Homo sapiens: one gene and its partner. The protein of the gene in region 1 interacts with the protein of each later gene in a pairwise test. Each region holds a gene or a part of one and is shown on either strand. Other genes may lie near its edges. The genes, in order: FGFR1OP2 and TRAF3IP1.

Region 1 (16,176 bases):
TATCTAGACTGAGGGCTATTTAGCTATCTGATCATATATAGGACCTTATTGCGTTTTATTTGGAAACAGATCCTGTCTATTGCATTTGTAGATGTTATGTTTTAGTGTGTAAAGAAGGGTTCTTCTTATAGTAGTCCCAACAATATCATTTACAGATTAGGACTGTTAGAGAGTTCTATTACTTGAGTTCTATTAAACCAAGGTAAACTTTATTTTCTCTCAAATCTTTTACAATTTGTTGTAGAGTTTCAAATTTGTCTTTTATTACTTTCACCATCTGTTATAAACTATTATTTTTACTATAAAACCAATTTTTTTGGTTATTTCATTTTTCTTAGTACAAGTCAGTGCCCGTCCTTTTTTTTTTTTTTTTTTTTAATTTTGCTTTACAGACAGCTTTAAAAGTTTACTCAGAAGGATCCGATGTTCTATAGTAATGGGATTAATGGGAGTTATAGTGATGTCCATTTAACCTATTTATGTTAACTTTCTTAACAAATAAGAAAGTTGTCTGTCTACAGTTTTAGATAATTTCCTTTGGAAATTTAGAGGAAGTACAGGGTATTGTTGGGCACTAATGCCTCTCTCAGAACGGCATCTTCGGATAGATTTTGGGTAGTTGTCCTTTTGGGTATTAGCCAGTATCAGACAATATTGGTTCCTTTAATGGCCCTTTTACTCCTCATATTTTCAAGCATCCTTATCTAAACCTCCTGAATCTTACAAGACAAATCTTGTGGTGGTTTTCTCTAGAGAGCCAGAAGTTATATTAATTTCCAGCTTGTTTACTTCTTAAGGCTCTCTGGAAATGTCTGATCATATATTGGACATTTTCTAAATTGGCGATTTAAATAACAGGAGAAAGTCTTCTGAAATTGCCTGATGTGTTTTATGAAATATTTTATACTGTTGAGTTATTTAAATTTTCTCTTTGCTACTTGTTGCTTTTTTTTTTTTTTTGTATTGGAGGGGATAATCATTAATTGGACTAGTTGGTACAGATCTGTAGTCCAGGGCAGTGGTATATAACAAAGTCCTGAATTCTGTGGCAAATTGCTGTTTTAATAAAGTTGATGAAAGTCTTTGTTTATAACCCTTCACTTGGATCTACACCAAATTTTAATTTAACTTCTGTAGACGTGGCTTCTGGCCTGGTAATTTAGTGTGATTTTATTTTTTGAGGAAACCCTGAAGAAAGGATGACTTATATTGAACGTTAGGTAAAACTTAGTAGAAAGATAAAAGATTTCAGCTGGGCACGGTGGCTCACACGTGTAATCCCAGCGCTTTGGGAGGCCAAGGCGGGCGGATCATGAGGTCAGGAGATCGAGACCATCCTGGCTAACACAGTGAAACCCCCGACTCTACTAAAAATACAAAAAAATGAGCCAGGCGTGGTGGCAGGTGCCTGTAGTCCCAGCTACTCGGGAGGCTGAGGCAGGAAAATGGCGTGAACCTGGGAGGTGGAGCTTGCAGTGAGCCGAGATCACGCCGCTGCACTCCAGCCAGCCTGGGCGACAGAGCGAGACTGTGTCTCCAAAAAAAAAAAAAAAAAAAAAGGAAGATAAAAGATTTCAAGGAGGGTAAGTGTAAGTTTCAGGAGAAACTTAAAGTTTTGGAAAGAGACTTTAAAATTATTAAAATTTTGTTTGAGGTTTCTACATACCAGTTGAAGAAGCTGACAATTGACTGTTTCATGTTTTGTCTCATATTTCTTTCAGCTACTCTTAAACATATTGCTTACTGATTTTAGCATATCAGAAGTTTCCTGTAATTACCAGTTTTGTCCTAAGTCAAAACTTTTTTTTGCACTTTAAGGAAGATGCAAGAGTTAGAATTATAATGCAACTTTATGTAAGAAGCAGAAGTTCTTCCAAGAAGAGGTTGAGACTTTAATGTAGCATGACACATTGAGGCCACTTCGGCTGGTCAGCAGTGTTTGTGAACAGTGTGTCAAGTCACCTGACCAAGCAGAGGTTAGGAAGCATTCTTACAGTCAAAGTTTTCAGACAGTCATTGACCCCAGAATACTGACCAGTAAACCAAATGATCTTCCTCAAAAGTGACAAGATAGGGAATGCCCTCATAAAGGGCAAATTTCTATATAACATTATATTCCTTGGACATGTACTTTTTTCCCCACTGTAAATTTAGAGTGTTTTAAATGCGTTCTAGTTCTGTCTGCAAATCTTTTAACTGTGTTCTAATTTTTTTGTAATAGTATAAATTTACTTTCAAGTTTGTAGTATCCTAACAGAAGCAAAACCACAGTGTTCTTAGGTGTTTTTTCCTCCCTGGACAGTGAACAATACTGTAACAAATGTGGCTTAAGAAGCATATCTGTGTTGACATGAAGCTAAAATAAAGAGATATGTTGACTTTATTTTGAGTCTTGATTTTAATTTTAATTATAGATATATCTTTAGAAATGAGTTGCACAATTGAGAAGGCACTTGCCGACGCTAAAGCTCTTGTTGAAAGATTAAGAGATCATGACGATGCAGCAGAATCTCTGATTGAGCAAACCACAGCTCTCAACAAGCGAGTAGAAGCCATGAAACAGGTTTGATTTTTCTTTCTTGTTCATTCCATTTATCAAAAGCAGTCATTGACATTTATGTATTGCTGGCTAATTAGTATCTAATTTTTTTCAACATTCTCTAAAATTTTAAAGTAGCTTGACTTGTGTGTTTCAGGTTTACTTTAATTTTGTCGTGTTCAGGTGATATACCTAGACATATATTTCTAAACCCTAGATTTGATCACTTATTTTGCTGACAGAGTTGCACATTTGAGTTTAGAAAATAAATGAATTTGTTAGGTCTAGAAACATTTGACAAAGACCAGATAATACCTTTTACTAATGTTGGTACACATTTTGTTCTGTCTTGTATAATGTAGAAATGTTCATATTTTTCTTTATAAAAGTACTTAGGTGATGCTGTTTAACAACAAAATAGCTTTTGAAAATGATGCAAGGTAATATGTGATTTATACTCTGTGCAGTTATTGTACCCATACTTGCTACCTTATTTTTCATTCAGTGCTACCAATTAAAGAATACATAAGGGCTTTCTTCTTGCTATTTTTACTATTGTATAACAGAATATTCCCATGGGCCACGGAGTTTAGACACTATTTTAACCTTCTTCTGATAAAAATTTTCAAGTCATTTAAGAAAATTATAAAATCTCTGACATTATGATGGAAATCAGAGGGGGAAAATGTATATTCACAGCCAAATCTCCTCATCTATTTTGTAAAAGGAAGCAATTCTGGGATAGTATTTTTAACAAAGCTACTGGAAATAGTGGAGCAAGTTTAGTTATTTGGTTTTACAACTGTGTTGCCCTAAACAGATTTACCTGCATCCCTAACCAACTGTCCAGCTAGACTCAGGCACTTCAGTGAACATATATCTGGTATTGAGTTGTTAAAAAAGGAGTTTGACATCTGAAGTTAAGAACCAGGAGTGTTATAATGAATATGTTACTAAGTGTCTCATGAGAATGCCTTGAAAATAAATAAGTGCAATTTTAAAATAAGATTCTCATTTTCTTAATGGAAAATCTTTTTGCATTTCTTTTGTACATGTTCTATTAAGATATTCACATACCATAAAATTTACTTTTTTGAAGGGTACAGTTCATTGGATTTTAGTACACATTTGCAGGTTATGCAGTATAACCACTACCTGATTCCAGAACATTTTCATCACCACAAAACCTTACATCCATCAGTGGTCTCTCTCTAGTTTCCCCTTTCCTCAGTCTCTGGCAACCACTAATATTTCTATCTCTTTGAATTTGCCTATTCTGGACATTTCATATAAATGGAATGATAAAATATGCGGCTTTTTGTGATTGGCTTCTTAACATAATGTTTTTAAGGTTCATCTATGTTATAGCATGTATCAGTACTTCATTCCTGTTTATTGCCAAATAATATTGCATTGTAAGGATACAGCACATTGTGCTTATCCATTCATCAGCTGATAGGCATTTGGATTATTTTACTTTTTTGGCTGGTAAGAATATGCTGCTATGAATATTTGTGTACAAGTTTCTGTGTGGACATATGTTTTCAGTTTTCTTGGGTATATATGTAGAAGTAGAATGGATGGGTCATATAATAACTCTGTTAAAATTTTTTGAGGATCTGCCACATTGTTTCCCAAAGCAGCTATGCCAAGCTTGTCCGACCTGTGACTTGCTGGCTGCATATGGCCCAGGATGGCTTTGATTGCGGCCCAGCACAAATTCACAAACTTTCTTAAAACATTATGAGATTTTTTTTTTTTAAAAAAAAGCTCATCAGCTATCGTTAGCATTAGTGTATTTTATGTGCAGCGTGATAATTCTTCTTCCGATGTGCCCAGGGAAGCCAAAAGATTGGACACCCCTGAACTACATCATTTTACATTCCATCAACAATGTATGGAAGGTTGCAGTTTCTTCACATCCTCTCCAACAATTGTTATTGTCTTTTTCATTACAGTCATCCTCGTGGGATATATTGAATTGCATTCTCCTAATGACTAGTTAGGTTAATTAAGTATCTTTTCATGTGCTTATTGGCCATTTGTATATCTTCTTTAGATAAATGTTTATTCAAATCCTTTGCCACTTTTAAAAATGGGGTTATTTTCATTTTATTGTTGAGTTGTAAGTGTTCTTTATATATTCTGGATACTAAGCTCTTATCAGATTTTTTATATGTATATTTCAGATATATTTATATTTATATATCATATATATATATATATATATATTTGCAGGTATTTTCATCCCACATGTTTTTCTCCCCCATTAGTATCAGGAAGAAATTCAAGAACTTAATGAAGTCGCGAGACATCGGCCACGGTCCACGTTAGTTATGGGAATCCAGCAAGAAAACAGACAAATCAGAGAGTTGCAACAAGAAAACAAAGGTAAGATACGTTACTTTTTGACATTAATCCCATTTCTAGTCTATATTCCTAAATCGTATTTATTGCTCTTTATCCTGTCCCACATATGAACATCTGCCTGGTTGACATCCTCTTAGATTCTCACCCTTAATATCCAGTTAGCACTGCTGTTGTTAGCTATGAAATAACCCAGCTTCATTCTCTGCAGTCCCACTGCATTGGCCCCCAGATTAGATGCTCAGTCTCTTGCCTGAAATGTCCAAACTGATCTCCCTGATTCCAGTCTCTCTTCCCCCTTCCAATCTGTCTTCAACATAACCATCAGATTGATATTTCAAAAATCAGTCTGATCATGTAATTCTTTTGCCTAAGAACTTTCATTATATACTTATTACCTTTTACAGGGTCCCTAAAAATCATTTCCCAGCCTTTTTTTTAAATCTTCTTCCCACAGCTTTCTTCACTGTGAACTCTTTGCTCTTGCCAACACCAATCACTTCCTAAACACGTCATCTGTTTTCATGCCTACCTGCTTAGAAGGTCCATTCCTTCACTTTTCAACTGAGGGAACTCACACTGTACTTCTACAAAGCTTCCACCAGTTTCTTCCCATAGACATCTCTTAAATCTATTTGACTTAACACTCCACTCTGCCACCTACCACATGCTTGTTTTCTCTACTAGACTCTTGAGGTCTGTGGCCCTTAATATAGAGGGAGCCTTGGCCGATATTAATTGCTGTTTAGTACATCTTTGTTGAAATGATTCTCAAGAAACAAGCTTAAAATATTCAAAAAACTAATACGGGACTTCATTTGGTGTCTCTTATTGTTATATGGCTAGATTTTTGTGCATTGTGTTTTCTTTTTAAAATGTCCCGTTCATAAGTTGCTTAGTGGAAGAGAATATTTTGTGTACTTTTAACTCAAGTTGGAATAAAATACAATATTATTCTTGATAGAATTACGTACATCTCTGGAAGAACATCAGTCGGCCTTGGAACTTATAATGAGCAAGTACCGAGAACAAATGTTTAGATTGCTAATGGCTAGCAAAAAAGATGATCCGGGTATAATAATGAAGTTAAAAGAGCAGCACTCCAAGGTAATCCATTCTATAAATGTGACCTGAAATGGAAAAGAGAGACGATTGATTATTCTGTGTTCAGATTTTTTTTGAAAAAAATCACAGGTATCTAGTAATGGCATTTTAACATGATGTTGAATGTTTCATCTTTTTAATTGACATTTTCTCCTTTTTCTTATTTTTCCATTTCTTGTTATATATCATTTTCTGTTTGATTTATAAACTCTCACTGTTTCTTAGAAACTTTAATTTGTACGTTGAAAAATAAATTTTATTTTGGATATAAAGGTAAGTCTGGTCTCTTCAACATTATTTTTGTAGGGCTATATACTTTTAAGAAATATTTCTTAAAGGGCTGGGCATGGTGGCTTACGCCTATAATCCCAGCACTTTGGGAGGCCAAGGCAGGAGGATCACTTGAGGCCAGAAGTTCAAGACCAGCCTGGGCAACATAGCATGACTCCATCTCTTCAAAAAGTAAAAAAATTAGCCGGGTGTGGTAGCACATGCCTGCAGTCCTAGCTTCTCAGGAGGCTGAGGTGGATAGACCACTTCAGCTCAGGAGTTTGAGGTTACATTGAGCTACGATCATGCCATTGCACTCCCATCTAGACAACCGAGTGAGACCCTGTCTCTTAAAAAACAGAAATTTTTTTAAGAAACATTTTTTCTAATAAATTTGTGTATTGACTTCTCTTGCAAAAACAAAAAATAATGGAAACCTTTTTTAAAATCTGAAAGCAGTTTAATGTAGATTTTTCTTAAGACTGTTTTCTGAATAAGGCTAATTCATCCAGACTATAAATGATCTTGTTTATTATAATGGAAAAAACATGGGGTTCAGGAGAAGAACCAACATAGTAAAATTTTGCTCCCTTGCCCCAGTATTGTATACCAGTTGACATCATTTTTTAGAAACAAAGCTGAAGTAGTTAGAAATTAGTGTTTTACCTGCTGTTCATCCCTTTGTCATCCCTGTGTCTATTCCCTTTGGTATGTCCCCATATTTTATGGCATATTTTATGGCAACTGCTATGAAGACAAGTAGAATAATCCTTTCTCACATATTTATTTTAAACTGAGTTTTAGTTGCTGATATGAAATAAAAATAATAAACTAGATTGTGGAAACTAGACTGTTACCTGTATTAGATAATGGTGAGCTGACTATTATTATTACCAATATTATTTAAGAAACAGTGATTATGAGCCTTCTTTTCCCCATTTGTTACAACAGAAATAGGAAAGGACATATTTTCATATTTATCTATTATTGAAACACATTTTAGATTCTTTAAAATACTTCTTCCATTTTGGTGCTTGTACGTGTTTTTAACTTATTAGTAATTAATTCTATTAGAATTAAATACCTATCAAATAGCTCTTTATATGCCTTTATTATATTAGAAAACCTAATGATAGGTACCTCTTGTGTCAACCAGTAAAATAATAAATTAAATTAAAAATTTGTGTTTAATGTTTTCTAATTATGCTATTCATCTCCTAATCAAATGGCAATCCAGGGATGTTTAAGTGGTGATCTTTTGAATACAAAATTTAACTATTGTTAATGAGACCATTCTAAAATCATTTAAATTTAAAGGTATAATAATAACTATAGTAACTAAGACTTTTTAAAGGCACTAAAAGGAGTTGACTTAATATTATTTGTAAGATAAATATAATCTTGAGAATTTCTAAAAGGTTTGTATGTTTTATAACCTAAAAATAAAATGTTAAAGATCTAAAGCGAAGAATACCATTACAAAAAAAGTGCTTAGAATAGGATAACTATAGCTTGCAGGTCCCATCTGGTAGCAACTATGACAGAAGCAAATGTTTCCTAAAATATATTAGATTTTACTATTCACCAGAGCTGGTTTATTAATTAGTAAGGTTAAACATTTCCTAAGATAGCTGTAAGCCATCCTTTTTTATTATGTAGATTGAATTCTTCATCTAAGTTCAGATGATCCTTGCCTCCCATAAAATGACTATTCAGTTATTTGTTATTAATTTTCACTAATACATATTAATGTTTGTGATTTTGATTTTTCCCAAAAAGGAGACACTTCGACTTAATTAAACAAACATTAATACTGGCACTGGGTTAGTTATGGGAAATAATAAGATGAATGTACAAGCTTGCAGTATAGTGGGAGATACAGACACAAACATAACAATCTACTATAAGGTAGGGCGTGATGAATCCCAAAGTAGATGAATTGTTACTGGAACGCTAGAGGGAACAATATTAACTGTCATAAGGAAAATCTGGAAAGGTAACAAGGAAGGGAAGAAAGTCTGTCTCAGTCCAGCCTTGAATTAATTATGGGCAGGTAGGTAAACAAGCAGAAGTGGGTGGGTGGGCAGAGAAACTTGTATAATAAAAGCACAAAAAGTATGGTATTGTAGGGTGTGTTTAGGTACTAGTGCTCTGATATGCCTAAACACAAAAGTAATTTTACAACACATTTAGAGCTAAGAAACAGAGTTACACATAACAGCATTTTGGATTGGAGTAAGAGATCCTTTTGAGACTGTTATAATACAGAACTTTGCCCTTAACTAGAAGTTTTTGAGCACATACTTAAAAAATCAGTAGAAAGTTTGAGAGCTCATTTTTACCCAAATACTAATTTTCATGTTATTTTTGAACAGATGCCTTTTTGGAAATCTTAAAAAAGCAAACATTTCAAACAGTTGGCTAACACGCATGAACTAACACTCATTCAGTTTTTAAATTACGGATGATATCCGTATTAACATTATAATGACTCTATACTACAGATTGACATGGTACATCGTAACAAGTCCGAAGGATTCTTCCTTGATGCATCTCGACACATCCTTGAAGCACCTCAACATGGACTGGAGAGAAGGCACTTGGAAGCAAATCAGAATGTACACTAAATAAACAGTCAACTTTTGGGGTGTGGATGGAAGGGGGGTCCATTTTAAAAGTGCTTTTACATTGAATTTCCCTCCCAGATTAGATCAGCAAATAAATGAAATTTATTAAAAGAATGTTGTGTCTTTAATAGCCATGCTGTTCAGTGTAGAAACTTTAAATCTCTCATTAATTTTCTGTGTATTGTATCATGTACAGCCTGTTAGATATTTGCAGGTTTTATAGGTTATTCAGTCCAACGCTTTATTTATTTGCTCTTGTTAGTTGTTGCTGTGAAACAGTCATTTCCTTTCTGGACATCAAAGATATTTTCTTGGCATTAATTTTAAACTGATTTCATAAGGTCAAAGTATTAAATGTTTTAATTCAGATTGTGGATAGTTTGTAGTCCTTTGATTTTGCAAATGAAATTAAAATGCCTTTGTTTAGATGTTAGGATTAAGTATAGTAGTGCTCTCTCCATTGTGTCTTAATTTTTTTTTAACTCACTTGTGGCAGGTCTTTATTGAATAAAGGAGGAATAAACCTAGACAGGGAGTTAGAAATGAAAGACATTTCAAGACAGTTCAAGGGTTATGTTGGTGACACTTCTTGTCTTCCAGACAGTTTTGAAAGCACAGATCTTGCCTCTTGTGCTTGTTAAAAAATCTGTGATACTTCTCTGAAGATTTTATAATTAAATAAGTGAACCATTACCATGACCTTTTATAAAAGTGCTGCCCTATTTGAAGTATTGGGTTTTTTCTCATGATGAGCTTTGTTAGACTTGGTACTGAAAAAATCAGTAGTTTTTTTCCTTCTATTTTAAAGGCAAAGAAATGCTTGCTTCAGCTAGGCATGGTGGCTCATGCCTGTAATTGGGAGGCTGAGGTGGGTGGATCACCTGACGTCAGGAATTGGAGACCAGCCTGGCCAACATGGTGAAACCCCATCTCTACTAAAAATACAAAAAGTTAGCCAGGCGTGATAGCGGGTGCCTGTAATCCCAGCTGCTCGGGAGGCTAAAGCAAGAGAATTGTTTGAACCTGGGAGTGGGAGGTTGCAGTGAGCCGAGGTCGTGCCATTGCACTCCAGCCTGGCCAACAAGAGCGAGACTCTGTCTAAAAAAAAAGAAATGCTTGCTTTCTGTGTAGTTTTTTAACTTAGGTCAGTGCCATAGGACTGACCAAATCATAAATTGAGGATGCTGTTGGTATTCAAAGTTTTTACTCATTACCCTTACTCAGTTTGCAGCTGCAATGATCTGTACTTAACCTGCTTTTACATATTATGCTTCCTTGACAATGGGAGGAATTTTAATGGTTAACTTGCAGAATATGACAGATACTTGTCTTAATATCATTCTTCCTACCATAATCTAATTCAAAACTATCCAGTAGAACTTTCTGAAATGATTGGAATGTTTTTTATCTGTGCTGTCCAGTGTGGAAGCCAGTAGCCACATGTGGCTGTTGAGCACTTGCAGTGTCACTAATGCGTTTGAGGGACTGAATTGTTAATTTTTAAAAATGTATTGATTTTAATTAAGTTTAACATTGTTTTGGACAGCACAGATTAGCCTTTTAGAGTACCTTCTTGCTGAGTACTAGCAGTGTATAGGTTTCCCCATGAAAAGGACCTACATTTTTGTTGGTTAAGAGGTTATTAAATGTGCTTTGCCAAAGATACTACCTTGTCATTTCTTCCAGCTTATTAGTTCCGTGGGTTTCTTGGAGTACTGTTAAATCCTTTTTACAAATATATATATACACAACTACTGAAGAGACTGTTTATTTGGGGAGTTATTCACTTTTATATTTAAGTCTTAGGCTTAATATGATAAAATACCTCTCAGTTGCTGTGAATAATGGTCTATAGAAGCTGTTCATTGAGAAAATGATTATTCTCGAGTTTCTGTTGATTTTAAACCTTTTTTGTCTGTCTCTTTCACTAGACTGTAAGCTTCTTCAGATCAGGGGACATGTCTTGACAGTCTTTGTATTCCTGTTGTTTAGCATAGTACTGGCACATCATAGGTGTGCAAGATAAGAAAATGAGATTGGAAGAATTTATGCTACTTGCTGCGCCTAACAAATGTGGATGTCTGTATTATACTGATACTATATTTTCAATAGTTAGCAAAGAAGGCCATTTAATATTTTAATACTGAAAAGCAGAATTGTGCTCATTTTATTCAATACTTACCATATACCATACACTAGATAGTAGGTGGATGTAAAGATGCAGTTCCTGCTCTCAAAGAGGATTATGACCTAGAAAAGGTTACAGATTGGATTGAGATAACTTTATAGGCCTGAACAATACAGAAAAGATTTCTAAATCATTGAAGACTTCAGGGAGGAAAAGAGATTGAATGCGTCGGCAATTTTTATCATTCCCGTTACTTTGAACAATAGTGTATGTAAGTGCAAAAAAAAAGAAAAAGTTGCTGATCATTGTGGTGAGAGGAATGTAAAATATGAGTATTTTTCTTGCTGCTAGGTTTAGTTATATTGTGCTGCTTATTCTTAATTCTAGTCCTAACAAATTTGATTTCAAAAGCACATCTGTGGTCAACCAACTTCATTGTTAATATTTGTTTTATTCATATTAAGTGACAATGTAAGAATATTCATGTTAAGTGGTACTGCAGATTTTATAAAAAGGAGAGGATCCAAAAATAAAAAAGTATTTTGCTGATTTCCAACTCCCATCCCTCTTTTTCAGGAACTGCAAGCACATGTTGACCAGATAACTGAAATGGCAGCAGTAATGAGGAAAGCCATTGAAATTGACGAGCAACAGGGTTGCAAGGAACAAGAACGAATATTTCAACTTGAAGTAAGTTTTACATTGCAAATGTAGATGAAAACTGTCCATATAAAGATTTATGCCAGAAAATATATCCCATTTTTAAATATATATTTACTCTTCTTGGGTACTGGTAATGTTCTCCTGGATGCTGTCTATGTGGGCATATTATGCAAGACCATTTATGTGGTGATGCAAGAATCTAGGATTATTAGTAACTTACAATATACCAGTAATGTAGAAAATTGATGTTTCATTCTATATTGCTTATCTTATGAAGTGAATGTACTTCTTCAATTGAGTCATTTTTAAAATTTTGTTTATTCTATTAGAGATCATAGTGATACAGGGAAATTTTTTTTAATCCACAAATATTTAGGGGCACTCTTATTTTTCTGGGGATTCTAAAAACCTTTGTCATCTGTCCTTTATTTTATGACAGTGAAAGTACCAGTCTCTGAATAACTGAAATCAGTACAATAGACTTTTATGCCTTAAGAGCTTCATTTTGAAATCACGGCGGGGAACCTGCTTTAGACTACTAAAATTTAGAAAGTGAGACTGAAGATAAAGTGATAGAGAACAAATTATGAAAGGTTATTGTTAAATGTCTACAAATTTTTTTACAGTAACTAACCAAAAGGAGGCCAGAAAGCAAAGTTATTTACCAGTGCCAGATTTGGTCACTTACTTTCCTTCTTGAAAAATATCATCAGCTACCCCTACCCTGCTGCTCTCAAATGCCAATGAGCTAAACTTGTCCTACATTCCATGCTATCATGGAAAGTAATAAAAATACTAAAAATTACTAGGAGATTCTAGCCTATTCACTGGCTTTACGAGTTTATATAAAAATAAATCTAGATGTTATTTTCTTCATCTCTAATGTGATTGTAAAATAAGGCAATTTCTGAGCTTCTGTTTACAATTATAGCTGCTTAAGTAAGAAGGCTTTGCAGTGGTGGAAGATGTTGAACACGATTCCTAGCTGCATAAGTGTTCTTTAGATTCAAGTTGCCAACTGCATATATCATTGAGTAGATTAATGCCAATTACAGACCTTGCTTGTTTGTTATACCTTCATATGTTCAGTTTTTCCTAACATATGTTTGTGATGTTGTAGCTACCTTGTAGATAGTGACTGCATCTTTGTTTTTGCTTGCCTTTTAGCAAGAAAACAAAGGCTTGAGAGAGATCCTTCAAATAACTCGAGAATCATTTTTGAACCTAAGGAAAGATGATGCGTCGGAAAGTACTTCTTTGTCAGCATTAGTGACCAACAGTGATTTGAGTCTGAGGAAGAGCTGAAGAGTTTCTGAGTCTGTGAGCTTCTTACATGGCTCCAAATGGTCAAATAAGTGAATGAATGAATGGACAGAAAATTCAATCCTTTATTTTTTTCTCTGTAAATATGTACAGTGCACGGGCTATGAGATAGCAACAAAAAATGCATAGTTAATGGTCATAGACTTTATTCCAAAACATAATTGGAAAATAGAAACTGAGCCATTGCCAAATGGTAAAGAAATGAAAAGTTTTCACAGTGACTACTGAATATACCAAGAGCTTTTGGCAGTACTGCTGGCTTTCTGGGTGATTAATTAGGTAAACTTGAATATTCCCAGTAAATGTTTGAGAATGCATAAAATTATACCAATTTAAAAATATAAATTTTTGCCACTGTTTTGTGAACGGAGGATTTGTACGCTAAATTTCATCCTTATTTGGCGTCAAAGTTGATGCAAAGTTTATGTACCATGAGACTTCTAGTGATTGCCTACTTTCACATTTATTTAAATTTTTGTGAAAGAAAATACAGTTTTAAAGGCTATAGGAATGTGTTATATGTACCTTAAACAGATAATTTAATTTTAGCAATTTATCATAACTGATACTTAGCTAACAATTGTCCATAACTTGTTTAAGTGTAAGAAATACCATTTCAGGAATGAAAAAGAAGGAATACTACTTTCTAAGAAAGAAGATCTTATAATAGACATATTTAGTAGGTTAAACTACTCCTTTGAAAGAATAAGTTTTGGTTCAAAGTCAATAATGAAGACGAGATTTGTTTTTCTCTTCTCTGGCTGATTTTTAAGGATATTATGTAGTTCATTTAGTTAACAGAATTGAAATGTTTGATATGGCAAGATAGGTATGGTAATTTCAAAGTGAATTGGGAATTCCTCTGGCTCATAGAACCCTTTTTTTTTTCCTTTAAGTATTCTTGAGATACAAAAAAAAAAAGTAAATACAATTTCAAAAAAAAAGTTCCGGATCTGTTTTTAAGCTCCATCTGGTCCTCATAACCTGCAAGATTTTTCTTAAAACCTTTCAGCTGAAAGTGGGGGTAAAGGTGGAGTAATCTGTGGATTTGTTTCTGTTGTCTTTTAAAATGTCAAATATATAATATGTAATTTTTTTAAAAACCACCAGATACAGAAATGTGCTTTAACATCAGTTGAAACCTAAATTTTCTTATGTTGTGGTGATTGTATTAAAAAGGGATAAAAGAAGAGTGTCAAACATGGTTAAATATATTGTACTCATTTATGTTGAATACGTATTAAAATTAAGACAAATGGAAAATTATACTTTGAGTATATAATTTGTTAAATATTACTTTATATGGTAATTTTATGTATAATTTCATATATTGGTAAAATTCAAAACTACACTTGAGAATTTTTTTATCTTAAGTTTGGGGTGAATGGGGTGGATGAGACTGATTGAATAGAAAAGGGCTAATGGCCCAAACATTATATAGATTTCTTTTTTTCAGTCAGAGGCCTTATTTGATATTTTATAAATAAATGACAGTTTTTATTTTTAAACTTTTTATTGTTTTTGGGAAAGTATTCCTTAATTTAATGACACATTCATTCAGATACTTCTTATCCCTGCTAATAAAGGAAATCTATTTCAAGCTACACCATTGAGATTAAGTCTGAGGCAGTTCATTGAGGCAGCTCTACTATAAAAGCTTACTTGATAAATAATTATTTTTGTAAACAAGTTGGGTTAACTTATTCTTCGTCTTTTTGCTTGGATATGAATTTAAGGTCTTCATGTTTAAAGACATTTACTTTGTTATTTAGTGACACATTTCCATCCTATTTTTTTTTTTTTTTTGGTTGTTGTTAAACAGAACCTTAAGTTTATGTTTGAGGTATGTACTGCATAGGAACCTATTTTATTATTAAAGATGAATGATTAAAATTGGTATGGTCTCCAATTTAATTTGAAAAGTGCTTACCCTTATTCTTATATATGGTTTAATTTTAAGGTTTTTTGTCTCTTCTTAGTGCAAAACTACTTAGCAGTGACCTCTATCTGTATTCCTTAGGAATTAGCAGCTTCTTAGTGTGGATCCTGCAGAACTTCTTACCATTTGTAGTAGGTTGAATCATGTCCCCTAGAAGGTAAGTCTAAGTCCTAACTTGATACACCTGGGAAGGTGACCATATTTGGAAATAGTCTTTACAGATGTGATTAGGGGATCTCAGGATATAATTACCCTGGATTTTGGGTGGGCTCCAAACCCAGTGACTAGTGTCGTTACAATAAGAGAGGAGGAGATATGAAACACAGATATAGCAGCATGAGGACAGAGGCAATGAGTTACGCAAGGACTGCTAGCCACCACCAGAAGCTGCAAGAGAGGCATGGAATGGGTTCTTCACGGGCTCCAGAAAGGACCAAGCCTGCTTGATTTCAGACTTCTGGCCTCCAGAACTGTGAGGAAATAAATTTCTGTTGTTTTCATTCACCCAGCCTGTGGTAATTTGTTAGAGTAACCCTAGGAAACTAAGACATCTATTGTTTTTCATCTATCAACTATATTTTTATTTTATATAAGAAAGTTCTTAAAAACCAATTTATAACCTCACAATTTCTGCTCTAATTTTATATTCTTTAATATCAAGGTGACTTCTAAAATTTTATAGAAATAAATTGCTTCCCTGTAATCCCAGCACTTTGGGAGGCCGAAACAGGTGGATCAGTTGAGGTCAGGAGTTCAAGACCAGCCTAGCCAACATGGTAAACCCTGTCTCTACTAAAAATACAAAAAGTTAGCCAGGGATGGTGGTGGGTGCCTGTAATCTCAGCTACTTGGGAGGCCGAGGCAGGAGAATCGCTTGAACCTGGGAAGCAGAGGTTGCAGTGAGCCGAGATCTCACCATTGCACTCCAGCCTGGGCAATAATAGTGAAACTCCATCTCAAAAAAAAAAAAAAAATTGCTTCAATGAAAAATGGACAATCGTAGATCCATAATTTTGGTGGTCACTACCTTTTTTCATTGTCAGAGTGAAATAGGAGAACATTTTTTAGTAAAATACTGATGAAGATGATAATTTCTAATTGGAATTTGAGGAGACACTTTTTCCTTTAACCTCTCTGGCTGCTCCTCAGTCTCCTTTGTTTCTTCTCGCTGACCTCTTAACATTAGAGAGCCACTGGGCTTAGTCCTTATACCTAT
Region 2 (16,176 bases), on another chromosome or scaffold:
ATGTTGTCCGTCAGTGGCAGAATGGATGAATAGTGGTATTTCATTCATATAATAAAACACTATTCAGAAACGCAAATGAACAAAATACATGTAACATGGTTGATTCTTAAACATAATTTTGAGGCTGGGCATGATGGCTCATGCCTGTAATCCCAATGCTTTGAGATCTAAAGAGGAGGATCACTTGAGGCCAGGAGTTCAAGACCAGCCTGGGCAACATAGCAAGACCTTGTTTCTGCAAAAGTAAAAAATTAAAAAAATTAGCCAGGCATGGTGGTGCACACCTGTATCCCAGCTACTTGGGAGGCTGAGATGGAAGGATTATTAAGCTTAGAAGTCCAAGGCTGCAGTGAGCTGTGATTGCACCACTGCATTCCAGCCTGGGTGACAGAACAAGACTCTGTCTCAAAAAATTAGTCGGGTCCGGTGGCTTATGCCTGTTATCCCAACACTTTGTGGGGGCCAAGGTGGGTGGATCACTTGAGGTCAGGAGTTCAAGACTAGCCTGGTCAACATGGTGAAACCACGTCTCTACAAAAAATACAAAAATTAGCCTGGCGTGATGATGCGTGCCTATAATCCCAGCTACTCGGGAGGCTGAGGCAGGAGAATCACTTGAACTGGGGAGGCGGAAGTTGCAGTGAGCTGAGATCGCGCCACTGCACTCCAGCCTGAGGGACAGAGGGAGACCCTGTCTCAAAAAAAAAAAAAAAAAAGGATGTGTTTGCAGGCTGTTTTGCTTGTGTGTTCAAGGGATCCAACTTGACCTACATTCGAGATGAACATATGGTTTATGAAGAAGTTTGGTGATGGAATATTTCTGGATGAACAGGACACTTAGAATAATTATTCAGTCATTCTGTGCTTTTCTTTTGTAAATTGAATGCAGGTATTCCTCTGTTTATGAAGAACACAACTTTTTTTTTTTTTTTTTTTTTTGAGACAGAGTCCTGCTCTGTTGCCCAGGCTGGAGTGCAATGGCGTGATCTCAGCTCACTACATCCTCGACCTCCTGGGCTCAAGGGCATCATCTTGGCTCACTGTAACCTCTGCATCCTGGGCTCAAGCAATCTTCCCACCTCAGCCTCCTAGGTAGCCAGGACCACAAACATGCACCACTATGCCTGGATAATTTTTTATAGAGATGGAGTTTCACCACGTTGTCCAGGCTGGTTTCAAACTCCTGGGCTCAAGCCATCTGCCCGCCTTGGCCTTCCAAAGTGCTGGCATTACAGCGTGAGCCACTGCGCCCAGCCTAGAAAACAAACTTTTGACAGGTTGCATATAAATCAATTCCTGAGGTCATGAGAGAGTATGTTATTTGAAGCAAATACATACTCTTTTGATTTATTGCCCACCTCCCCACCCTACAATTAATCAGGCTTTTGTTTATTGGGTTTGCTTAATGTCGGGTAGAGCTCTGCTCAGGAGTGTGGCTGAGCAGTCACATCCAGCAGCGGGGCAGGGCAGCGGTCAGAGGCCTCCATTCCCATGTGCCCTGGATCCTGCTTCCGAGAGGGACTTCTGGCAGCATTAAAGACCAGACTTCTGAGACATTTTTTTTTACATTTTATTTTGTTTTAGATTTGGGGGTACATGGGCATGCTTGTTAATGGGTAGGGACTTGGCTTCTCGTGTACCCATCACCCAGTAGTGAATGTTGCACCCAGTGGGTAATTTTTCAACCCTCCCCCTCCCAACCCTCCCGCATTTTGGAGTACTCAGTGTCTATTATTTCCATCTTCATTTTTTAAATTTTATTTTAAGATATTTTAAAAATAATACTTTTGGCCGGGTGCAGTGGCTCACATCTGTAATCCCAGCACTTTGGGAGGCCAAGGTGGGTAGATCACTTGAGGTCAGGAGTTCAAGACCAGCCTGACCAACATGGTGAAACCCCATCTCTACTAAAAATACAGAAATTAGCCAGATGTGGTAGCAGGCACCTGTAATCTCAACTACTTGGGAGGCTGAGGCAGAAGAATCTCTTGAACCTGGGAGGTGGAGGTTGCAATGAGCTGAGATTGCACCACTGTACTCCAGCCTGGGTGACAGAGTGAGACTCCATCTCAAATAATAATAATAATAATAATAATAATAATAGTAATAATTCTCTTGAAGGATTGCAGTTGAAATTCAAATAAATCTCTAAGGTCAATAATGTGTATTTATATGACTTATAATCAATAACTATAAATTTAAAAATCACTAGAAGTGCAAATGCCCATGTTTCTGAGGACAAGTGTGTGTGTGGTAAAATGCAAATAAAATAGTCCCAGAAATAACTGTTCGCTTGAGAAATCTTGGAAGCATTTTCTGAAAAGTGTGTGCGCACGTGAGCACATGAAGTGGCCCAACGCTGAGCTGCCTTGCCAGAGGCCTTCCTGCCAGAAGGCAGCTGAGTAAACAGTCTTTAGCCCGCAGGAAAAGGGAGGCCAGCCAGGTAGGAGGCAGGAGGGGACAAGAGGGGTGACTTTGTGTCCCCTTGAAACACACGTGGGCTGCCACCTCTCTGTTTGCCTAACTTGGAGAAACTGCCTTTAGACACTGGATCCATGGTGAGGGTGCCACAAAAAGGTGCCGTGGGTGGTTCTGCGATGTTCACAGCAGACTTCCTCTGAGCTCAGGATCACCAACCTTTCAGCGGAGAAAAGAGCTTTGAGATGAATTTCATAGCTGTGGGTTATTTATATTCTTAAAATGGAGATGGAGAAGGAAGTGTGTCGATGAGGAAGGTAAATTACATTTTAATGAAAGAACTTGCCTGGACATGACAGCTTGTTAGGTGGTGCTGATAATATCTATAAATACTTTTTTCACTGTGCGCTAAAGTATTCCAAACATGCCTGGCTAAGAATGTTTCATAGCCAACAAGTTGACAGGAGGTAAAATAACTGTATCAGTGCACAGGAAAAAGCACCCATGCCTTGTCCTGGGGGCACTTGCAACTTGCTTCTTTCTGGGGAATAAATTTACGATAATGGTTAACATCTACTTGAGGGTTTACTATGTGTGAGGCACTGAACTGCTTACTTTATATTATCCCATTTAATGTTACCTGAAGGATAAATATTATTATTTCCATTTTCTTGTGAGGAAGCTGAGGTACAGAGAGGTCATTCCAAGGTCATAAAGTTAGGAGGTGGTGAGGCTGGGTTGTACCAGCCCCTGGAACCACAAGGCACTGACTGCGGGTCCTGCTGCCCCCGAATCCTCCTATGGTCTAGGTGGTTTTAGGTCATATTTTGTGTAATGACAGATTTCCTTTCCTTTTCTTTTCTTTTTTCTTTTTTGAGAAAAAAGGGTTTCGCTCTGTTGCCCAGGCTGGAGTACAGTGGCACAGTCTTGGCTCACTGCAACCTTCTCCTCCTGGGCTCAGGCAATCCTCCCTGCTTAGCCTCCTGAGGAGCTGGGACTACAGGTGTGCACCACCACGCCTTGGTAATTTTTGTATTTTTTTTGTAGAGGCAGGGTTTCACCATGTTGGCCAGGCTGGTCTCAAATTTCTGGCCTCAAGTGATCTGCCCACCTCAGCCTCCCAAATTGCTGGGATTACCGGCATGAGCCAACACACCCAGCCATGACAGATTTTCAATAATTAACACAGCAGGGGCAGTCATCTAATTCCTGTGTGGGGGTAATAGATCCTCAAACTACTATTGGATTAAAAGTCTTTAAAAACAAGGTTGTTTTTATCTGGAAAATTGTTGATATATCTACATGAGCAACATATAACTCGAGGTCTGTCATCAGAGAGGTGTGCTTTTTAAAGCAAATAATCACGGCTTGATGCGTTCACGCTGCCCCTGCTGTGTTAAATGAAAGCTTGAAAATTGCCAGAGTGTTGGTGTTTTGCAGCAATGTATTCCAGTGCCTTTATGCTAATAATAAAACCTGTCCTGACTATCACAATCCCAGCCCAAGTGTACTTATTTTAAAGTCTTAATCTCTTAAACATAAATTATAAGCTTTAAGATTAGTGTTCCAAATTCTGCTTGGTCCTGTGCAATAGAAATATGAGGAGTTTGGCCAGATTACCTCTTAGTGTCTTTTTCTACATTGTAACTCTCCAATTTTGTAAGATATTTGTTTATATTAGTCTCCTACCTTAAGGTCCATGCCCTAAACATTTTTATATTAGAGTTAACACGATGCCAAATGCACAGGAATTACTTGATAGTCATTATGAATGGGTTTTAATAGAAGTTTGAATTTCTTAACTAAGTCAATGAGACATTTACTAATTTGTGTATAATAAAGACAATATATTTTTCTCTTGGGAAGTAGCTTATTTTATTGAATTCATTTCAGTCATTTAGCGTCTTAATTTAAAGGCATTTTATATAGCCTTTTAGAAATTAAACGTTTGATATAACCATAGATTCATATCCAGTTATAAGAAATAATAGACGCCCAGGTGTGGTGGCACGTGCCTGTAGCCCCAGCTACTTTGGCAGGCTGAGGCAGGAGAATCGCTTGAGCCCAGGAGTTTGCGTTCAGCCTGGGCAACACAGTGAAACCCTGTAAAGAAAAAATAGTAGAAAAAGAAATAATAGAGATATACTGTATGCCTTTTGCCCACTTTCCCCCAGTGATAACATCTTACAGAACCATAGTACATTGTCAACCAGGATATTGACAATGAAACAGGATCCAGAACATTTGTATCACCTCAAAGATCCCTCTTGTTGCCTTTTTATAGCCACACCCTCTTCCCCCACCTCGAACTCTTCCTTCACCCCCAGCTACCACCATCAGTTCTCCATTTCTGTAACTTTGTCTTTCCAGAATCTTGTGTAAAAGGAATCCTACAGCATGTAACCTCTTGGGATTCACTTTTCTTATTCCTAATCCTCTGAGGGCCATCCAGTTTGTTCCATGGATTAGCAGTCTGTTCCTTTTTTTTTTTTCTTGAGACGGAGTTTTGCTCTTGTTGCCCAGGCTGGAGTGCAATGGCGTGATCTCGGCTCACTGCAACCTCGCCCCCCCACCCGGGTTCAAGGGATTCTTCTGCCTCAGCCTCCCGAGTAGCTGGGATTACAGGCATGCGCCACCGCGCCCAGCTAACTTTGTATTTTTAGTATAGATGGGGTTTTGCCATGTTGGTCAGGCTGGTCTCGAACTCCTGACCTCAGGTGATCTGCCTGCCTCAGCCTCCCAAAGTGCTGGGATTGCAGGCATGAGCCACCATGCCTGGCCAGTCTGTTCCTTTTTATTGGTAGATAGTTTTCCCTGGTGTGGATGCACCACAGTTTAGTTAACCAATTACCTATCGAAGGACACGGGGGTTGTTTCCAGTTTGTGGCTACTTTGATTAAAGCATCCGCATGCATTTGTATACAGGTTTTTCTATAAACATGAATTTTCATTTGTTTGGATAAGTGTCCAGGAGTACAACTGTTGGTTGATACTGTAGTTGCATGTTTAGTTTTATAGGAAACTGCCAAACTGTGTTCCAGAGTGGCCATATCTTTTTACATTCCTGTCAGCAATGAGTGATCCAGTTTTCCCTAACCAGCATTTGGTGTTGTCACTATTTTTTATTTTAGCCATTCTGATTGTTGTGTGGTGATGGCTCATTGTGGTTTGAATTCGCATTTCCCTAATGCCTAATGATTTCAAACATATTTTCATGTGTGTGTTGGCCATCCTTATATCTTCTTCAGTGAAATGTGTCTTTTGCCCATTTTCTAATTGAATTATTTGCTTTCTTGCTGTTGTGTTTTAAGAGTTCTTTGCATATTCTAGCTATAAGTCCTTTATTGGATGTGTGATTTGCAGTTGTTTTTGCTCATTCTGTGACTTACCTTTGCGGCTTCTTCCCAGGGTCTTTCGCAGAGCAAACATTTGAAATTTTTGTCATGCTTTTGGTGTCAAGTCTTCGAACTCTTTGCCTAGTCCTAGATCCCAAAGACTTTTTCCTCCTGTGTTTTTTATCTTAAAGTTTTATAGATTATATTTAAATCCATAGTCCATTTCGAGTTAATTTTTGTTTAAGATATGAGATTAGGTCAACGTTTTGTTTGTTTTTTGGCTTATGGATGTCCACTTAACCCAGTGCCAAATGGTGCAAAGCTCTCTCTGCCACTAAATTGCTTTTGTACCTTTGTCAAAGATTGCTTGGGCATATGGACATATTCGTATGGATCTACTTTTGGATTCTGTGTTCTGTTCATTTGATCTATGTCCCTCTGTCAATACTGCACTGTCTTGATTACTGTAATTGTATAAAAAGACTTGAAGCCTACGCGGTGGCTCACACCTGTAATCCCAGCACTTTGGGAGGCCGAGATGGGAGGATCACCTTAGCTCAGGAGTTTGACACCAACCTGGCCAACATGGTGAAATCCCATGTCTACTAAAACAAAAATTAGCTGGGCATGCTGGTGTGCGCCTGTGATCCCAGCTACTTGGGAGGCCGAGGCAGGAGAATCGCTTGAATCTGGGAGGCAGAGGTTGCAATGAGCCAAGATCACACAACTGCACTCCAGCCTGGGCGACAGAGTGAGACTCCGTTTCAAAAAAAAGCCTTGAAATTGGGTAGACTGGTTATTTCTGTCTTTATTCTTTTTCTGAAAATGTTTTAGCTATTGTAGTTCCTTTGCCTTTCTGTATACATTTTAGGATAATCTTGTCTATACAAAAACATTGGCTGCAAGTTTGGTAGGATTTGCATTAAACATGCGTATCGGTTTGGGGAAAATTCATGTCTTTACTGTGTCCTGTCTTCCATTCCATGGACACAGTGTGTCTTCTCATTTATTTAGATTTCCTTTGATTTCTTTCATCTGCATTGTTTCGTTTTCCATTTCCAAGTCCTATACATGTTTTGTTAGATTTACAACTAAGGATAGTCTTCTATTGAACAATTGTCAATGGCATTGTATTTTTAATTGCAGTGTCCATGTTTTCATTGCTCATACATAGAAATATAGTTGATTTTCATATGCTCATCTTGTATACTACAACCTTGCTGAACTCACTTATTAGTTGTATGAGTTTTACGTTTTACTTAAAGTCCCAATTATTTAACACTTTCTATGTGCCAGGCATTATGCTAAAGCTTTCTTGTACTTGTCCAAGCCAGTAAATGGTGGAACTAGGATCTTCATACATAAATCATTTATCCACTTCATTAGTTCATTTCACAAATTCTTAGGCAGAGCTTATGTGAATCACAGTGAATCTAGGCACAAGGTCCTGCCCTCCTGAGCCCACAGTCTGAAACTAGCAGAAGTAATGCAAGTGAATATGTAGCTATGATACGTTCAAATTAAATAAGTTGATTTGTTACAACTGAGTGCATTTACTAGCTCATTCTGTAAGTGGGTGAGGCAAGGAAGGGCCCCTTACCGGTCTGGAGTGGGTGGGGGGGTGTCCAGGGAGGGCTTCCTAAAGAAACAGTGTTGCAGGGCATGATGGCTTACATCTGTAATCCCAGCGCTTTGGGAGGGCAAGGCAGGAGGATCACTTGAGCCCAGGAGTTTGAGAGTAGCCTGGGCAACATAGTGAGACCCTGGCTGTAAAGAAAGAGAGAGAGAAGAAAGAAAGGGAAGAAGATAACCATCTGATCTTTGACAAACCTGACAAAAACAAGCAATGGGGAAATGTTTCCCTATTTAATAAATGGTGCTGGGAAAACTGGCTAGCCATATGTAGAAAGCTGAAATTGGATCCCTTCCTTACACCTTATACAAAAATCAATTCAAAATGGATTAAAGACTACATGTTAGACCTAAAACCATAAAAACCCTAGAAGAAAACCTAGGCAATACCATTCAGGACATAGACATGGGCAAGGACTTCATGTCTAAAACACCAAAAGCAATGGCAACAAAAGCCAAAATTGACAAATGGGATCTAATTAAACTAAAGAGCTTCTGCACAGCAAAAGAAACTACCATCAGGGTGAACAGGCAACCTACAAAATTAGAGAAAATTTTCGCAACCTTCTCATCTGACAAAGGGCTAATATCCAGAATCTACAATGAACTCAAACAAATTTACAAAAAAAAAACAACCCCATCAAAAAGTGGGCAAAGGATATGAACACACACTTCTCAAAAGAAGACATTTACGCAGCCAAAAAACACATGAAAAAATGCTTATCATCACTGGCCATCAGAGATATGCAAATCAAAACCACAATGAGATACCATCTCACACCAGTTAGAATGGCGATCATTAAAAAATCAGGAAACAACAGGTGCTGGAGAGGATGTGGAGAAATAGGAACACTTTTACACTGTTGGTGGGACTGTAAACTAGTTCAACCATTGGGGAAGTCAGTGTGGCGATTCCTCAGGGATCTAGAACTAGAAATACCATTTGACCCAGCCATCCCATTACTGGGTATATACCCAAAGGATTATAAATCATGCTGCTATAAAGATACATGCACACGTATGTTTATTGCGGCACTATTCACAATAGCAAAGACTTGGAACCAACCCAAATGTCCAACAACGATAGACTGGATTAAGAAAATGTGGCATATATACACCATGGAATACTATGCAGCCATTAAAAATGATGAGTTCATGTCCTTTGTAGGGACATGGATGAAACTAGAAACCATCATTCTCAGCAAACTGTCGCAAGGACAAAAAACCAAACACTGCATGTTCTCACTCATAGGTGGGAATTGAACAATGAGAACACATGGACACAGGAAGGGGAACATCACAATCCGGGGCCTGTTGTGGGGTGGGGGGAGGGGGGAGGGATAGCATTAGGAGATATACCTAATGTTAAATGACGAGTTAATGGGTGCAGCACACCAACATGGCACATGTATACATATGTAACAAACCTGCACATTGTGTACATGTACCCTAAAACTTAAAGTATAATAATAATAAAAAAATTAAAAAAAAAAAGGAAAGAAGGAGAAAGAACTGATGTTAATTTTCCCAAGCTTATTGATTCTTATCAACTCACATCAGTTTCTGACATTCAGAGATGTCTGTGATCAAAGCTCATATGAAGAGAATTCTAAATGTTGCATGGCAAAGAACCCAAGAACTCCTGGCCCAAACCGCATGCAGCTCCCCACTCGTCTCTGCGTCCTCCTCACCTCCTTCACCTGCTGCTGTCTCAACTTGACCCCTTCCATCTGGCCCCTGACCCCTGGACTCTGTGGCCTCCCTGAGCGGCCAGCACAGTCACGTCTAAGTCGACCTGACCATCTGCCTGCTGGGTGCTGCTGGCTGCTGCTGGCTGCTGCTGGCGCTGGCTGCCCTGCACATTCTCCATGCCCTCCTTTCCATGGCACCAGTTTCTGCCTCTCCTTTGGGTTTCTTTCCCCTTGCCCCCTGGCAAGCTGGGTTTTGAAGTCATTTGGGATGGAAGGTGGGCCATTTGAAGAGCTGTAGGGTCAGGCCCTCATTCTGCCAGTCCATTTGGGAAAAATCTTCCATGTCACTAAGCTCTTGTAACAATAGCTACAAAAGTTGCTTGTTAGTTGGGAACTGAAATCTGCCTGTATAGAGATTTGCCCTCAGATGGATTTCCAGGTAAAGACAGACCCCCATCCCCATTGAGCAGGGAAGGAGCGGCCCCTCCCTGGCAGTGCTGTGTCCTCTGATGGCGTGCAGCACTTCAGAGTTACTCTGTTAGGCAGCATGGCTCTCCCTTTGCATGGGAGTGAGTGTCCCACAACCAGCACTGTCTCTGCCTGCGCCTTTCCTCCCAGCCCCATGGCCGTGTGCTGAGTGCACCGGCCCTGTTCTGCCTTTGGACTGAGGAGGCGTGTTCCTCTTCCTATGTCTCCCTGACTGTAGGAGCGATCTCTCTTTGAGTCGGCATGGAAGAAGGAGAAGGACATCGTTTCCAAGGAGATAGAGAAGCTCCGCACGTCCATCCAGACCCTGTGCAAGAGCGCACTTCCCCTGGGGAAGATCATGGACTACATCCAGGAAGACGTGGATGCCATGCAGAATGAGCTGCAGATGTGGCACAGCGAGAACAGGCAGCACGCCGAGGCCCTGCAGCAGGAGCAGAGGTGGGGGGTAGTAATGGGGAGGGGGCCCTGCAGCAGGAGCAGAGGTGGGGGGTAGTAATGGGGAGGGGGCCCTGCAGCAGGAGCAGAGGTGGGGGGTAGTAATGGGGAGGGGGCCCTGCAGCAGGAGCAGAGGTGAGGGGTAGTAATGGGGAGGGGGCCCTGCAGCAGGAGCAGAGGTGAGGGGTAGTAATGGGGAGGGGGCCCTGCAGCAGGAGCAGAGGTGGGGTGTAGTAATGGGGAGGGGGCCCTGCAGCAGGAGCTGAGGTGGGGTGTAGTAATGGGGAGGGGGCCCTGCAGCAGGAGCAGAGGTGAGGGGAAGTAATGGGGAGGGGGCCCTGCAGCAGGAGCAGAGGTGAGGGGAAGTAATGGGGAGGGGGGCCTGCAGCAGGAGCAGAGGTGAGGGGAAGTAATGGGGAGGGGGCCCTGCAGCAGGAGCAGAGGTGAGGGGAAGATAATGGGGAGGGGCCCTGCAGCAGGAGAGAGGTGGGGGGGAGCAGGGGGATAATGGGAGGAGGCCTGCAGCAGGAGCAGAGGTTAAGGGTAGCAGAGGCAGGGAGTAATGGGGAGGGGGCCCTGCAGCAGGAGCACAGGTAGGGGATAGCGGAGTGGGGGGAGTAATGGGGGAGGAGGCCCTGCAGCAGGAACAGGTTGGGGTGGGGCAGGAGGGTAATGGGGAGGGGGCCCTGCAGCAGGAGCAGAGGTAGGGGTGTAGCGGAGTGGGGCAGTAATGGGGAAGAGGCCCTGCGGCAGGAACATAGGTGGGGGGTAGTGGAGGGGGGATCCCCAAAGTCAATGGGGACTTTGCTGCATACCTCCTTGTCCCAGAGGTTGTTCTGTATGTAATTTAAGGACTTCAAGATTATCATTGAAGAAATATTAACTGCTGCTTTTATAAATCTCATGTTTGACTTCACTTTTGGTTGTAGCAGGGGTTGTGAAAATAAGAAATAAATATTATCCTTTTCTTTGGATGAAACGAATAATTTACTTCTGTTGTCTTTCAATGTCTTAATTAAGAAGCCAACACACAATGAGATGAGAGAGTGATGAGCCGCTGGTTTTGTTCTCCCTCAGGATCACAGACTGTGCCGTGGAGCCCTTAAAGGCTGAGCTCGCGGAGCTGGAGCAGCTGATCAAAGACCAGCAAGACAAGATCTGTGCTGTGAAGGCCAACATCCTCAAGAATGAAGAAAAAATCCAGAAAATGGTATATAGTATCAATTTGACTTCGAGAAGGTGAACACTCAAAAGTTTCAGAGATGAAAAGTCACCTCAGTTTAAAAGCAAAAAGGAAGATAGAAAATCATTACTCTTTTAAGTTCCAGTTTGCTAAGAAAATGAACAGTTTACAATGTTATTATCCAGCTAATTTTCAGAGCTTTAAAACTGTAAGCATGTTAAGTGTATTAAAAAAACCATGTTTTCTTACCTCCTTCCAGATGGAATACTGGCTAGTTATAAATAGCGCTTCCAAACACCTCTGTGAAAAGTTTTTTTGAAAGCCTGTTCTTTGTGTTTCTGCTGTAACCTGTTTAGTTCTGTACCAGAACTCTCTAGCAGGTAAGTGGTGTGGGCATACCAAGGGAACAGTAGTCCTTTATTTTGGTTTAGTGGAAAGACTTTCAGAGGTCAGTGCCGAATGAAGGATGACTGTGTACTTTTTGATAGGCACTTGATAAGTAGAATGAGGCCTGAAAATGAATACATTATATTTTTAGTTAATTTCCAATGGAAAGGGCTAACCTCAGCCTGTCTCCATATCAGGTACCTATCAACTGGATTGTTTTCATTTTTGTTTTTTGACCTCTTTGTAATTGCATGTACTTCTCTATGTAATTTTCCTCTTGATCTCTACTATCGTTTGCTTGTGTTTCTAGTCCTTAAAGTTCATAAATTTAAAAAGGAGATTTCAGGATGGCCTTTATGGACGTTGTCTGGACATACATCCTCACTTTCTTCCGCAGTTTACCCTGGTTTTCCTCAGACAGAGGCTAGCGCAGCCCCCCGGAGTCCTTGTTCTCCTTAAGAGGGTCTCGCTCTGCAAAGCATTGGCGCCATGGCTTTTCCTTTGCATGGGTGTGCATACCGAGAGACAGGCAGCTTAGGAAAAACAACATAAGGAAGACTTAAAAGGATGCACTGATTTACGACGTTTTTTGATGTTAGCCATTTTTTTGGAAATTGTTTTTTAAAGCAAAAGTTTTTTAAAAACATGGTTTATAGTTTTTCACTTACATATACTATTGTAAATACTTAGCAGAGTCTTAAGTTACTGTATAAAACATTTCATTGTGTTTGAAGACATACTTATGGGTCTTGAGGTCTGGGTCCTAATACTTTTAAATAGTGTATTTATTATGTAAACTGAGGAGTGCCATTTAAAGTGTGAGGATTGCCTGAAAAGGTTTTGTTTCTTTCTTTTTTTTTTTTTTTTGAGATGGAGTCTTACTCTGTCGCCCAGGCTGGAGTGCAGTGGCGCAATCTCGGCTCACTGCAACCACCGCCTCCCGAGTTCAAGTGATTCTCCTGCCTCAGCCTCCTGAGTAACTGGGACTACAGGCGCACGCCACCATGCCCAGCTAATTTTTGTATTTTCAGTAGAGATGGGGTTTCACCGTGTTGACCAGGATGGTCTCCACCTCCTGACCTCGTGATCCGCCTGCCTCGGCCTCCCAAAGTGCTGGGATTACAGGCATGAGCCACTGCACCCGGCCAGGTTTTGTTTCTTTAAGGATTAGCACAAATGGCACCGTTGGGTTTTTCTTCATACAATTTCCAAAATAAATTCTGTACTCAGGTTGTTATATGATTTTCTGAGCTGAATAAGTTCAGGAGCAGATTATTAAGATCTGCCATTCTGAAACGCTGGTCTTTTTCTCCTTCCTATAGTGCACCATAAAATTCTGTTTGATCAGATTATATTACATACATTTTGGGGGAGTGGAGGGACATGAGTTAAGTAGCCCTTCATGTATTTATAATCTCTTTTCTACTGAATCAAATGACTTAGCCATGACCCTGAATGGACCTTGTTTTACTTCAAGTTGAGATGTCTGCCTTTTATGAATTTGTATATGTGAATAGAGTTTGGGGGTTGCCAAAAATTGCATACATTGTATGTAAGTAAAATTTTTTATGAAGTAGTCTGTCAAATTGTATCATAAAGTTTATTTTTCTTTTATACGTAAATCATTAAAAATAATCACATATTTTTTCCATAAGTGTATGGATTGTGCAGTTCGATTCACACATGGAAAAATCATAAGCATTTGGATTTTTTATTTTCAAATGTGTGTGTTTTGTTTTTCTCGTGAGGAAAGTTCAGGGAAATACATCTTTTCATTCATATTGTGACACATCTCTTTTCAGTATGAATTGAAGTTTTATAAGATAGGTAAGCATTTATCAGAAATTGTAAGATCATTTGTGAAGTTTTAGAAGGTCTCTACACGTGATTGTTACTGTATCTTATCCTACACACTAGATCCTGATCTTAATTTGAGAAATTTAATTTTTCTCTTATTTTGAGACAATACACAAATGGGATTATTAAGTATTTTTCTATACTTTGGTTTATAAGTTTTCAGGGAGTACTGGAGTCATACTTCAGGAATTTGAATTTAAAAGTTGAGCTGATGATAATTTATATTCAAAGGAAATGCATAATAGACCTTTGGAAGAAATAGTTCAAGACTAAAATGCAGCTTTCTACTTTGATATTCATCCTTATTTTTCTTTTTAATAATCAACTTTTAAAAACTGAAATCTATGAAGAAAAATGATGTCACTTGGTGACATGAAGTGCTACTTAGGATTTGGGTGATATGGAATTCTAGTCAGTGTATTAACGAGTGCCCCCGAACTATTCCGGTGCTAGTCTTCTGAGCTGCCCTGGACTGATGGGGTTTATCTTCTGTTGGTCGATGTGCACAGTGTCATGGCACACGAGTAAGAGAAAAGATGGCCAGGGCCTTTGAGCAGCTTTGGGATCAGTAGCCAGTGTGAGCCAGCAGCAAGCAGGATGAGCAGCCTGTTTGAGCTTCCGCAGGAACCTGCTTCAGAAGGAGGCCACGCCCAAGCAGGATCAAGGCTCAGCATGTCACCGTCAGGGAAGACACTAAACACCCAGACCTGGACTTGGCTCCCCACTCTGGACTCTTCTTTCCACACCCGAAAGTGCAGAGAGTAAATAACCTTGTTCATGGCGCCTCTACGTAGACCACTGTGGGCTCCTCTGAGGGGCTCTCCAGCAAAGACTAATGTAGCAAAGCAGAAGTAAGAAAAATTCTAAGTCAAGCATGAGCCAGCCTAAGTCGGAGGAGAAGGAATAGCTGTTCTCAGTGATTCTCAAATGTAACTACTTGCTACATTTGGGCTCTGAGTTTAACTCTATCATAGGATACACTTTATTAATAAAAATGTTTTATATTTTCCTAAAAGGTGTTTCAATAAGTATGGTTTATGCAAGCTTTACATTGGGGCATTAGTGAAGCCCCCTAGTCAGAACCCCTTTTTGATTATGTGTATTTTCATAAAGGGATATTGGGAGGGACTTTGGTTTCTTTTAAATTCAGCAAGAGAAATTTAAATGTCTTTTAAAGCTGTAGAACTTGACCGGGTGTGGTGGCTCACGCCTGTAATCCCAGCACTTTGGGAGGCCAAGGCAGGCAGATCACCTGAGGTCAGGAGTTCGAGACCAGCCTGGCCAACATGGTGAAACCCTGTCTCTGCTAAAAATAAAAAAAATTAGCCAGGCGTGGTGGTGGGTGCCTGTAATCCCAGCTACTTGGGAGGCTGAGGCAGAAGAATTGCTTGAACCAGGGAGGCAGAGGTTGCAGTGAGCCGAGATTGTGCCACTGTACTCCAGCCTGTGTAAAAGAGTGAGACTCTGTCTCAAAAAAAAAAAAAACAAAAACAAAAACTATAAAACTTGTTTTGGCCAGCCGTGGTGGCTCATGCCTGTAATCCCAGTATTTTGGGAGGCCGAGACGTGAGACTCACTTGAGCCCAGGAGTTCGCGACCAGCCCTGGCAACATAGTGAGTGAGACCCCATCAAAATAAACAAAAAAGCCGGGCATGGTGGTGTGTGCCAGTAGTCCCGGTTACTCAGGAGGCTGAGATGGAAGGATCACTTGAGCCTAGGAGGTTGAGGCTGCAGTGAGTCATAGTCATGCCACTGCATGCCAGGCTGGGTGACAGAGCAAGACCCACTCTAAAATAATAATAATAATAATAATAATAATAATAATAATAATAATACATAAAACTTGTTTTTAAATCCATATATAGAGCTGAATTCCAAATTGGTTATCAGTTTCTTAAACCAAGCAAATTGGTCTTTCTGTTAAGAAAATGGAGTTCAAAAGAAAGTTAAATTACACATATTACAAGAAGGTTGTACTCTGGTCAGTCAGGGCAGAATCACATCCTTGTAAATGAATGCAGTCAAATGTGTGTGTCCAGATTGGTGGGCGTGTGGTGTTGGCGAAAGCACCATAGAAACCTCTGGGTGTCTTCTGATGAAGCCGGGCACCCAGAGCCATGTGATTCCAGGAGATGCTTGTGGAACAAGGCTGGGCTGGCCCTGCCCCACTGGGCACACCGATGGTAGGGTCTGATTTATGTTCTCCAGCAGCCAGGCATGACACTTTGTGGATAGTGCTATGTGTAAGTTTTTAAAGAAAATTATCCTTACTGTCAATCATGTATCAATATCACCCTTAGTCGTGCCAGGTATTCATGTTGGCATAACTAATTCATATTCCTAAAGTATTCATTTCTTCTTATTTAAAGGACTTTTAATGGAAGAGGTAATATATTAGCATGGATCCACAATCACGGTTAGCTGAAAGGGTCCTCTGTGAGAGGTCCCCTCCCGTGGTCCCTGTCTGCCTTGCTTCTCCTTGCCCCTGTAGGCAGCCATTTGCATTAGACCCTTGTACAAGCAGATAAGAATATTTACTTTTATACCCCTGCAACATACAGTTTCACAAAAGGTCATAGTCTATACCCTGTTCTGAACCTTGGCTTTTCGGATTTATGCAGTCTGGGGACCTCAGAGTGTCCACCCTAGACACCGTCCTCACTTCTCTCCAGGCTGCGTGGATCTCCCCCTGCGGCTGCCTGGCTTCTCCTGCTGGCTCCCTGGTGCTCAGTCGCGTGGTTTCTAGTC

What was found.
Region 2: the proteins of FGFR1OP2 (region 1) and TRAF3IP1 interact in a two-hybrid assay, tested with the Homo sapiens proteins (2 studies listed by IntAct).

The regions. Positions count from the first base shown.
Region 1 is NC_000012.12:26,951,731-26,967,906, forward strand, and holds the end of FGFR1OP2 (FGFR1 oncogene partner 2), read left to right. Parts: intron 1-2,414; 5' UTR 2,415-2,428; coding exon 2,429-2,563; intron 2,564-4,812; coding exon 4,813-4,930; intron 4,931-5,870; coding exon 5,871-6,013; intron 6,014-8,784; coding exon 8,785-8,898; coding exon of another isoform or gene 8,899-8,907; exon of another isoform or gene 8,908-9,021; intron 9,022-11,611; coding exon 11,612-11,725; intron 11,726-12,865; coding exon 12,866-13,003; 3' UTR 13,004-14,918; downstream 14,919-16,176. UniProt on the Homo sapiens protein: May be involved in wound healing pathway.
Region 2 is NC_000002.12:238,387,677-238,403,852, forward strand, and holds the end of TRAF3IP1 (TRAF3-interacting protein 1), read left to right. Parts: intron 1-9,782; coding exon 9,783-10,003; intron 10,004-11,077; coding exon 11,078-11,243; 3' UTR 11,244-13,221; downstream 13,222-16,176.